Linked DNA regions of Homo sapiens: region 2 is linked to region 1. A link means that fine-mapping ties the variant in region 1 to the expression of a gene that starts in the linked region. Tissue or cell type: whole blood. Region 1 holds a variant in brackets; the other region holds the start of a gene. All regions are shown on one strand. Distances are from middle to middle.

Evidence for each region. PIP is the estimated chance that this variant, and not a neighbour inherited with it, causes the effect.
Region 2: ASIC1 starts here. The variant in region 1 is fine-mapped to the expression of ASIC1 in whole blood (TOPMed, PIP 0.95).

Annotation. Positions count from the first base shown.
Region 1 is chr12:50,131,566-50,136,565 of GRCh38, reverse strand. It overlaps CERS5 (ceramide synthase 5), which reads left to right. Exons shown (of 10, transcript NM_147190.5): 7 at 497-625; 8 at 728-834; 9 at 1,864-2,020. Among named protein-coding and RNA genes, the nearest start is that of COX14, 22 kb to the right of the region's middle. The variant C/T (reference allele first, on the strand shown) is at 2,764.
Region 2 is chr12:50,054,833-50,059,950 of GRCh38, reverse strand. It overlaps ASIC1 (acid sensing ion channel subunit 1), which reads right to left and starts at 2,355. Exons shown (of 12, transcript NM_001095.4): 1 at 2,035-2,355; 2 at 823-1,200; 3 at 1-192. The coding sequence starts at 1,184. RefSeq lists silencers at 2,153-2,322, 2,393-2,552.

The DNA.
Region 1 (5,000 bases):
GTATGGGTCAGTCACTGATGTAGGGAGTGTTCAGTTAAATGCTAGGTAGCCAAGGGAGAGTCTAAGCAGAATGGAAACTTTTTTTTTTTTTTTGAGACGGAATCTCAGTCTGTCGCCCAGGCTGGAGTGCAGTGGCGCGATCTCAGCTCACTGCAACCTCTACCTCCCAGGTTTGAGCAATTCTCCTGCCTCAGCCTCCCGAGTAGCTGGGATTACAGGCACATGCCACCAAGCCCGGCTTATTTTTGTATTTTTAGTAGAGACGGGGCTTCCCCATGTTGGCCAGGCTGGTCTCGAACTCCTGACCTCAGGTGATCCGACCACCTTGCCCTCCCAAAGTGCTGGGATTACAGGCATGAGCCACCTCGCCCGGCCAATGGAAACTATTCTATATGGGGTGGGGTAAGATTCTTAGAGAATAATGCAGGACGTTGGGTTGGCTGGTGTTTCTAGGGCCCAGCTTTTACCTCCCTCTTCTATTTCCATTCCTTCCTAGGACTTCCTGATCATGTTTGTGCATCACTTGGTCACCATTGGGCTTATCTCCTTCTCCTACATCAACAATATGGTTCGAGTGGGAACTCTGATCATGTGTCTACATGATGTCTCAGACTTCTTGCTGGAGGTAAAAACCCAATCTCTCTTTCTCCATCTTCTTCTTCTCTTCTTTTCTTCCTATGTGAGGAATGACTTTCTCCCCAGCTCAATTCTTTCTTCCTTTCTCCAGGCAGCCAAACTGGCCAATTATGCCAAGTATCAGCGGCTCTGTGACACCCTTTTTGTGATCTTCAGTGCTGTTTTTATGGTTACACGACTAGGAATCTATCCATTCTGGTAAGTGGTAGGGCTGTAGAGTTGTGGTAGGTATGAGCCTAATGATACCTTTTTGCCAATTCTCATTTTGCCCATTCAGTTTTTCTGTTCTATTCTATTCTACTTTCGCCAATAGAACACAAGAACCCTATTGCCCTGCTTTTACCTTAGCCTGTGCTGACCTTCTGTGGACTCTCATAGGACCTCTGCTGCCTCAGACCGTATTTCTAGCAAGGTCGGATCCAGACTCAGAGTACCCGGCTTGGTTGGCTTCTCAGGACTGACTCATCTCTGAGGAACAGTCCTCATTTTATGCCTAAGTAATTCCTTTGACTTCTTTTGCACTGTTGATACAATTCTCAGTCCCTTCTTGCTTGTGTTCCTGCTCTGGTCCCAACCCTGACACACACACACACACACACACACACACACACACACACACACTCCTCTCTCTCTCTTCCTCCCTCTCCTCTCTCTCCCTCCCTCCCCTCTCTCCCTCCCTCCTCTCTCTCTCCCTCCCTGTCCTCCTCTCTCTCCCTCCCTCTCCTCTCTCTCTCTTCCTCCCTCTCCTCTCTCTCCCTCCCTCCCCTCTCTCTCCCTCCCTCCTCTCTCTCTCCCTCCCTCTCCTCTCTCTCCCTCCCTCCCTCTCCTCTCTCTCCCTGTCTCCTTTCACTTTTACATTCACTGCTCTATGGGAATCAGCTACCTACTGTCCTATCCTATATGTGCCTGAGGAGCTCAGTCATTCATAGGATTAGAGTCCCACTGCTGTCCTAATTTCGTGAAACTCTGGATATTTGAAGTGATTAATAATGTGACTTAATCCATCAGTTCCTAAGATTTATATATCTTTCTCTGTCCCTAAGGATAGAAAACACAACAGGCTCCTCCCTTTCTTTATTTTCTTACTGTGGATGACGGTCCCTGGAACTTCAGCTGATAAAAGGGCTGGTAGGAAAACACACAGGGCTCTGCATCCCCAGGACTCAGCTTCATCCCTGTCTGCTGAGCTTTGACTCTAGAATCTGACTATTGGCCTCCCTCTTCTAGGATTCTGAACACGACCCTCTTTGAGAGTTGGGAGATAATCGGGCCTTATGCTTCATGGTGGCTCCTCAATGGCCTGCTGCTGACCCTACAGCTTCTGCATGTCATCTGGTCCTACCTAATTGCACGGATTGCTTTGAAAGCCTTGATCAGGGGAAAGGTGAGGATGAAAGATGGCTTCTTTCTTTTGGGTATGGAAGATAGGGATTACTCAACAGACGTTCTCTCTCCATCAAACCTGGTGAGCCCCATCTACTCAAGCAGGCCAAGCAAAAAGCCTAGGGCTCCAAAGTCTTCGCCTCTTCGGTAAGTGTTTTGCCTTTTTTATTTTAGAGACAAGGTCTTGCTCTGTCACCCAGGCTGGAGTTCAGTGGCATGATCATAGCTTACTGCAGCCTCACACCTGGGCTTGGATTCTCCCACTGCAGCCTCCCAAGTAGCTGGGACTATAGGTGTGCACCACCACGCCTGGCTAATTTTCTTATTTTTTGTAGATAGGGTGTCACTATGTTACCCAGGCCAATGTCCAACTACTGGCCTCAAGCAGTCCTCCCACCACGGCTTCCCAAAGCGATGGAATTACAGGTGTGAGCCACCACACCAAGCCTGTTTTACCTTTTTTTTTTTTTTTTTTCAGATGGAATCTCGCTCTGTTGCCCAGGCTGGAGTGCAATGTCACGATCTTGGCTCACCACAACCTCCACCTCCTGGGTTCAAGCGATTCTCCTGCCTCAGCCTCCCTAGTAGCTGGGATTACAGGCGCATGCCACCAGGCCTGGCTAATTTTTGTATTCTTAGTAGAAACGGGGTTTCACTATGTTGGCCAGGCTGGTCTCTAACTCCCGACCTTGTGATCTGCCCACCTTGGCCTCCCGAAGTGCTGGGATTACAGGCGTGAGCCAC[C/T]GCACCTGGCCTGCCTGTTTTACCTTTTAAGATGTGACTTAGACGCAAGAGGAAAGTTCTACCTTCTTCCTGTCCCTTAGGAATGGCTTTTGTTAAAGGATGATAGGGTTAAGAGTTTTTTAAGAGATGGCCTCAACCATTTCCTACCCCTTACCTACCTGCTTCAGTGGATTTCATATTTTTCTTTTTGACATGGGGCCCTTTTCAAAGGAAATCATATGCAGAACCATATAAACTGTATAAAAGCAGATTGTTAAGTTGCCTAGAAGTGGTGTGTGGTAGTTCACAAGCCACCACAAGGTGACCATGCTGTGATATTCAAGATATGGTTTATATAAGGAACTAAATACCCACCTCACCCCACTAGTGTATGAGGCAAGTGTCCTAAGTGAATGGGTATGTAGTGTTTCAAATACCCATCTTATGCCAAGAGCGAAAGAAAGGTGCCACTTAATGATAAACTCATAATTGAACTTTGCAAGTTTTGAAGCAGTCAGACTGTAGTCAAAGGGCTAGGGATTTCAGCCTAAAGGAATACAGAATCCCAAGTGGGAGGGGCTCTGCTTGAGCAGGTACTGATACTAGGACCAAGTGATGGAATGTGGCCTAGATATTGATGATCTCCTGCATCATTATTCCTTATAGCTGCCATTGGCTCAGAACTTGCTCAGTGTGCCTGTGCATCTTGCTGTAGCTACTGGACATCTCTGTTCTCTCCTGCTTTTCTTTCCTGACTAGGTGACCTGTCCAGGAAGGATTAGACCCTGTACTCTCCACTCTTTCCTCACCTCCTTCCTTTTTTCTATGCCTGGCGGGAGCTGGACAGTTTCATCTCTTGCATGTAAGTGTATCTGTGCTTCTAGTATTCAGTGAGGCATGTCCATCTGAATGTGGTTCTCTTTCCTCCTGCTCTCCTTTCTGTTCCCTTGTGTTTGTCTCAGAGCATGCCCTCTCTCCTGACTTTTCGGGGCCATTATTGACTAGAGCTGCAGTTGCCAGATTTTTTCCTAAACTGAGGCAAGAATTGAGTCTACTTTTTTTTGTTTTTCTTGAGTCTCTGTTTACCTCAAATCTAGAGACACTCTGCCCTCTAGTGGAAATTTCCTAAAGGTCAGGTAATCAGTTAGTCATCTAAGTTCAGAGGCCAACAGCTATAATCAACTGTAGAAGACCCATCCAACACAAATTCAAGGAGCTGATCCAAAGCAAATGCCCACCTCCTTGGCAACAGTTGTTACAGCTGTGTTCCTTTTCACTTCCTTCTCTCCTTTACTTAAACCACATTTATTATCCTTCAGTTCTGGAGGTCAGAAGTCCGACACAGGTCTCACTGGATTTCTGTTCTTTACTATTAGAGTCCAGGGTAATTTTTTTTTTTTAATTTTTATTTATTTATTTTTGAGACAGAGTTTAGCTCTTGTTGCCCAGGCTGGAGTGCAATGGCGTGATCTTGGCTCACTGCAACCTCTGCCTGCCCAGTTCAAGCGAGTCTCCTGCCTCAGCCTCCTGAGTAGCTGGGATTACAGGCATACGCCACCACGCCTGGCTAATTTTTTTGTATTTTTAGTAGAGACGGGGTTTCTTCATGTTGGTCTGGCTGGTCTCGAACTCCCGACCTCAGGTGATGCGCCCACTTCAGCCTCCCAAAGTGCTGGGATTACAGGCGTAAGCCACCATGCTCGGCCCTTTTTTTTTTTAGAGACAAGGTTTTGCTCCATTGCCCAGGCTGGAGTACAGTGGCGCAATCATGGCTCACTGCAGCCTCGACCTCCTGGGCTCAAGAGATGCTCCTGCCTCAGCCTCCCAAGTAGCTAGGACTACAGGTGCATGTCACCATGCCCAACTGATTTTGTCATTTTTTATTTTTTGTAGAGACAGGGCTCTCTCCATGTTGCCCAGGCTGGTCTCAAACTCTTGGGCTCAAGCTGTCCTCCTCCCTCAGCCTCCCAAAGTGCTAGGATTATAGGTGTAAGCCACTGTGCCTGGCTCATGGTGGAGAAATTGAAATACTTTGCTTGATATGCAGGATAGTTTAGATTAGGAAATGCTGCTGTAATCCAAATGCTTCATTTGAAAATAATACAAAACAAAAAAACCCAGGTTAATAAGCATTCACAGATGGTAGCATGATTAGAACTGGGATTCTTTTCTCATTGACTGCCAATCCATTTGTGTTTTCACTATACTGTGTATCTTGGGGATGCTGAAGTTTCTTTTTTTTTTTCTTTTTTTTTTTT
Region 2 (5,118 bases), 77 kb after region 1:
TTGAAGTCTTCAGCGCTGCAGACCTCCCCCCGGAAGTGGCAGGAGAGCAGCATGTCTCGAATGTCGTGCCCAGCTCGGTCGTAGAACTCACGCATGTTGAAGGGTTTGGGTTTGAAGCTGCGGAAGTTGGCTTTGTCCTGCAGTATCTCCAGCTGCTTTTCATCTGCCATCTGTGTGTCTGGTATCTCATACCTGGGGTCCGGGGGTGAGTGACACACGGGTCAGTACAGTCATCAGTGTCCTGCACCCAACTTGGGTGATGGGGGCAGCCTCCAGCCCTGGGGATCAGTCCCAGGTGTAGGCAAGGAAGGAGAGCTGGGCATGCAGAGGCTCTACCACATGGGTCTGAAATGACAGGAGGAACTGTAGTGGCTGCCCAGGGGCAGGGCATCCCATCCCAGCACATGGGTGAGAGGAAGCATGGATAAGGTGGGCAGAGAGACAAGGCAGGGGCTGTGGCTTTTATACTGTAGTTTCTACCCTTTAAAGATGTTCTGTCCCCATCCCCCAACTGACGAGAAGGTCAAGACAGAGTGGCCAGAATGAAGGTAAAGCTCACTCCAGAGAGGGTGACAATGTCTCATACCTCAGGCTGGGTGGGGGTCGAGCTGTTCTGGACTATGCTGGGATCGGAGGCTGGGTGCCCTTAACTGGGTGCTCAGCAGCACCCTAACTCCTCTGCTGTGAGTGGCAGGTTTGGGGGTGGGGGTGGGTTAAAGGGCAGGGTTGGCTGGGCTCTATGGTGGGTCAGGGAGGCAGACATCCTGACTGGAACTCAAGCAACTCCAGGAGCAGGGCTGAGGGAGGGTGGGAGCCACCCACCTGTTGTTGAGCAGGGCCAGCAGCTCCCCAGCATGATACAGGTCATTCTTGGAGACTTGGCTAAAGCGGAACTCGTTGAGGTTGCACAGCGTGACAGCAGGGAAGGTAAGCTGAGAGGCAGCCACCTCGTCGAGCTTGGTGACATGGTGGTAGTGGAAGTAGTACTGCACACGCTCCGTGCACACACACAGCAGCACAGCCAGGGAGCCCAGGAAGCACAGGGCCCACAGTGCCCGCTTCAGAGACAGCCGCTCGTAGGAGAAGATGTGGGCCAGGCCGTGCAGTGTGGAGCTGCTGGCGAAGGCCTGGATGCTCACCGGCTGGACGCCACCCACCTCCTCCTCCTCGGCCTTCAGTTCCATCCTTGTTGAGGGGATCCTGGGGGAGGAGGGAGGGACAGTCTATCATTGTCCTGGGATGAAAGTACACATGGAGCCCCTCCACATGTGCCCATCCAGAATCCTCATCTCCAGAGGTCACCACTCCTCGGGCAGAAGACTTCCCTGCTTTGCAAGCCCAGAGGTGGCTGACCAAGGGACACATCCAGGGTTCCTCCAAATACAGAGGCACAGGGGGTCAGGTCAGGCCAAGAGAATGCTCCCCAGAGAAGCTTCCCAGGCCCGGGGAGACCCCAGATATAGTCATCCGAGGTTGAGGGGGAAGTCCTGATGCACCCATAGGCAGGCGCAGGAGTTCCCTCCAGATGTGGGGTCACTCTGGGACAAGAATATCCACCCCATCCTGGAGATGAAAACTCACCCAGATGGGCTGACCCCGGGGTAAGGAGCTCCTGTCCTGGTCACGGGTATTCCCTGGACGGGGCTGTGGTCCTAAGGGCTAAACTGGGGCCAGAAAACCCCCAGGGAGGTGGCTACATCTAGGGAGGGGCCCAGCCTGAGTCCTCACCTGCGGGTGTCTCCAGTTCTCACATAAGCGCAGGCTGTGTGTATGTTGGGAGTGGGGGGTGGCGGGCTGCCCGAGGTGGATGTATGGAGGGGGGGCGCGGTTCCCTATGACAGCGAGCTGTCCCCGCCCCGGACGCAGCCCCCCCCAGTCCAGCTTCTCGTCGCAGTCAGATCCCCAGCTCGGCCCCCGCCCCCCTCCCCAGCCACCGAGCCGCCCCAGCAGCAAGGGAAATCCAGAGGGAGGAGAGTCCCGGCTTCGGGGTACCGAGGAGCCTCGCGGCCAAAGGCAGGGGTATCGGAAACCCACCTGAGGGGGCTTCGGCAAGCCGGCAGCCGGCGGCGGGTCCTGGGGCGCTGGACCGGTGGCGGGCTCAGCGCCGAGTCGCGGAGGGGCTCATGGCCCGGGGCCGGAGCCCGCGGCCGCCGCGGCACGCCGCGCAGAGCCCTGCAGGGAGCGCCCCGCCCGGCCCCGCTCGGCTCCGATCTGTCCGCCCGCCCGCGCGCGCTGGCTCGCTGGCTCGCTCGCCTCGGCTCGGTCTGCCCGGGCTCGGCGCGGTGCGCGGTGCTCTCAGCCCTGGGATCTGCAGGGATCCATCGTCCGGCCGGGAGGCGGCGGGAGGGGAGGGGGAGGGGAGAGGGTGCGCGTGCGCGCCTACGAGTGTCTGCGAGGCTGTCTCTGGGCTGGTGTGCGCGCGGGGCCCCGGATCCGGGAGCGGGACCCAGGGCTCCCCGCGCCGCCTCGCCCCTCCTCGCGGCCGCTTTCGGCGGCGCTGCCTCTCTCCAGTCCCGGAGCCGTCTCCCTGCCTGCGAGGCCCTATGGCTTGTGTGTATGACTCTGTGTGTGGTGTGTGTGCGCGCGCGCGTGTGTGCGCGCAGGAGGGAGGGTGTCTGCCCCTAGCGTCCCTCTCCCCGCGCTGTCTCCTTCGGATCGATGCTCCTGCCTCTTGCTGCTGCTTCCTCTGGTGGCACACACGCGCGTACACACACACATACACACACACGCTCCGAGTCACACTTGACTAATTCAAGCACTTAGCCCATATGGAGACAGACACACATACCGACCAGAGTCACACCACACCATTCACAACCACACCCCCCCGCAACAGATGTCCACGTATCCCGGGGGCCTGACCCACATGGCAAGCACTCACCTGCTCTTATCCCTGCTCCCACCTGCATGTGACACATATACACGTGCACATATGTGAGCCAACACGCAGCCTTGACCACTCAGATCCCATCCTTGTAGCTTTGGGCTTGTGGGGGGCATGGTCGCAACCCCTTACTGCCAAATCTCCAAAGAAGGAGCAGAGAAAAGGAAGGAAAAATAGCCAGAGGTCAAGGGAATTTGGACAGAAGGAAGGAGGCAAAGGGAGTGAAGGGGACAGGGTGAGGAAGGGTTGGAACGGGGAGCTATGCTCAGGGATGGAGCAGAAGTCTCAGCACAGAACGCAGGCCTGGGGGCTGCTCCTGTGGCTCTCACCTTTCTCCTTCCCTGCCTCCCTCCTCTTCTCTGAGAGGCCTTGGGGAGGGGGGCCCTCCCTATCCAATTAACAGAGAAGGAGCAATCAAGGGGAAGTTGTTAATTTGCTGATGCTCATTAGGGGCTCTTAGCACAGAGGCTGTTGAGGTCTGATGGTGTCAGATGATGAGGAGGAGGGTGCGGGGGACCAGAGTTCTGTCTCTAGTGGCTCCTTCGCTCTACTTGCAGGCTGGTGCGGCTCGGGGAGAAGGATGGTGAGAGGTGTATTCCTAGGACATGGTGCCGGGCTTTAAGTTAGAAGAAAACCTGTAACGAGAAGGGGATGGCACATTGGAAAGAAGTTGGATGAGAAGTTGGGAGTAGTGGACATCTAGGAAACCAGAGAAGGGGTCTGGAGGTCCCTAGTGGGAGAGTGGACTTAAGATTGTGGAGGAGGGAGGTCGAGATCCATTTACTAGGGGACTGGACACGGAGCTGCCAAAAGGAAGGGAGGATCTTCCATTCAGGTCTTGGGGAGCTGTTCAGCGGTACCAGGCAGTGCTGGAGGGTTGCTATGCCCCCGGGCAGCCACTGGGTGGCAGCCCTCTCCCAGATACTTAGAATCAACTCGTGGGGGGCATTTGAGAGTGGGAAATCACCTGGGAGGGTCCCAGAGACCTGAGGAAGCATCAGGCAGAGTCTGATTCCTGAATTCCAAATATCCTCAGGGGGAGGGGAACACTATTTTGGAGCATCTGTAATTTCCCCACCTCCCCGCGGCTCGCAGGCTGACTGACACGTGGAGCCTCTTCAAATGGCTGCAATTGCTTCAGTCACCTGGGATGTTACTGAGGGAGCAGCGGGGGTGGAGGGAAGGTGATGAGGTGAGGTGGAGGCAGGCGAGGACTGATTGAGGCCAAGGAGCAGCCTCAGGAGGAGTCTGGGGGAAGACAGAAGGTATGAATCAGGAGAATCAGCTTCCAGACCTGGCCCTGCCATTCATTAGCATAGGCAGGCCCCTTGACCTCTCTGGACCTCGGTTTCCTCATCTGTAAGGCAGAGATAATATTTATTTCACAGGATTTTTCGAGGATTACATGAGCTAACGCATGGAAAGTGCTTAGTACATTGGCATGTACCTAGTAAATCCCAATAAGTAAATAACTATTATTAGTATTAGCATTTGGATCTAGTGGTAAAACCACCAGTGCAGCCAAACCAGGGCAGAATCTAAGGCACTGGTTCTTAACCCAGGCTGCACATTCGAATCACCTGGGGAGCTTTTAAAACTGCAATGCCAGCTGGGCGCGGTGGCTCACTCCTGTAATCCCAGCACTTTGGGAGGCAGAGGAGGGTGGATCGCCTGAGGTCAGGAGTTTGAGACCAACCTGGCCAACATGGTGAAACCCATCTCTACTAAAAATACAAAAAGTAGCTGGGCGTGGTGGCGGGCACCTGTAATCCCAGCTACTCGAGAGGCTGAGGCAGGAGAATCATTTGAACCTGGGAGGCGGAGGTTGCAGTGAGCCGAGATTGTGCTATTGCACTCTAGCCGGGGAGACAAGAGCGAAACTCCATTTCAAAAAATAAAAATAATAAGATAAAACTGCAATGCCAGCCAGGCGTGGTGGCTCACGCCTGCAATCCCAGCACTTTGGGAGGCCGAGGTGAGTGGATCACCTGAGGTCAGGAGACCAACCTGGCCAACATGGTGAAACCCTGCCTCCACAGAAAATACAAAAATTAGCCAGGCGTGGTGGCACGCACCTGTAATCCCAGCTACTCAGGAGGCTGAGGCAGAAGTGCTTGAACCCGGGAGACAGAGGTTGCAGTGATCGGAGATCGTGCCACTGCACTCTAGCCTGGGCAACAGAGCGAGACTCTGTCTCAGAAAAAAAAAAAAAAAACTGCAATGCCATGGCTCCA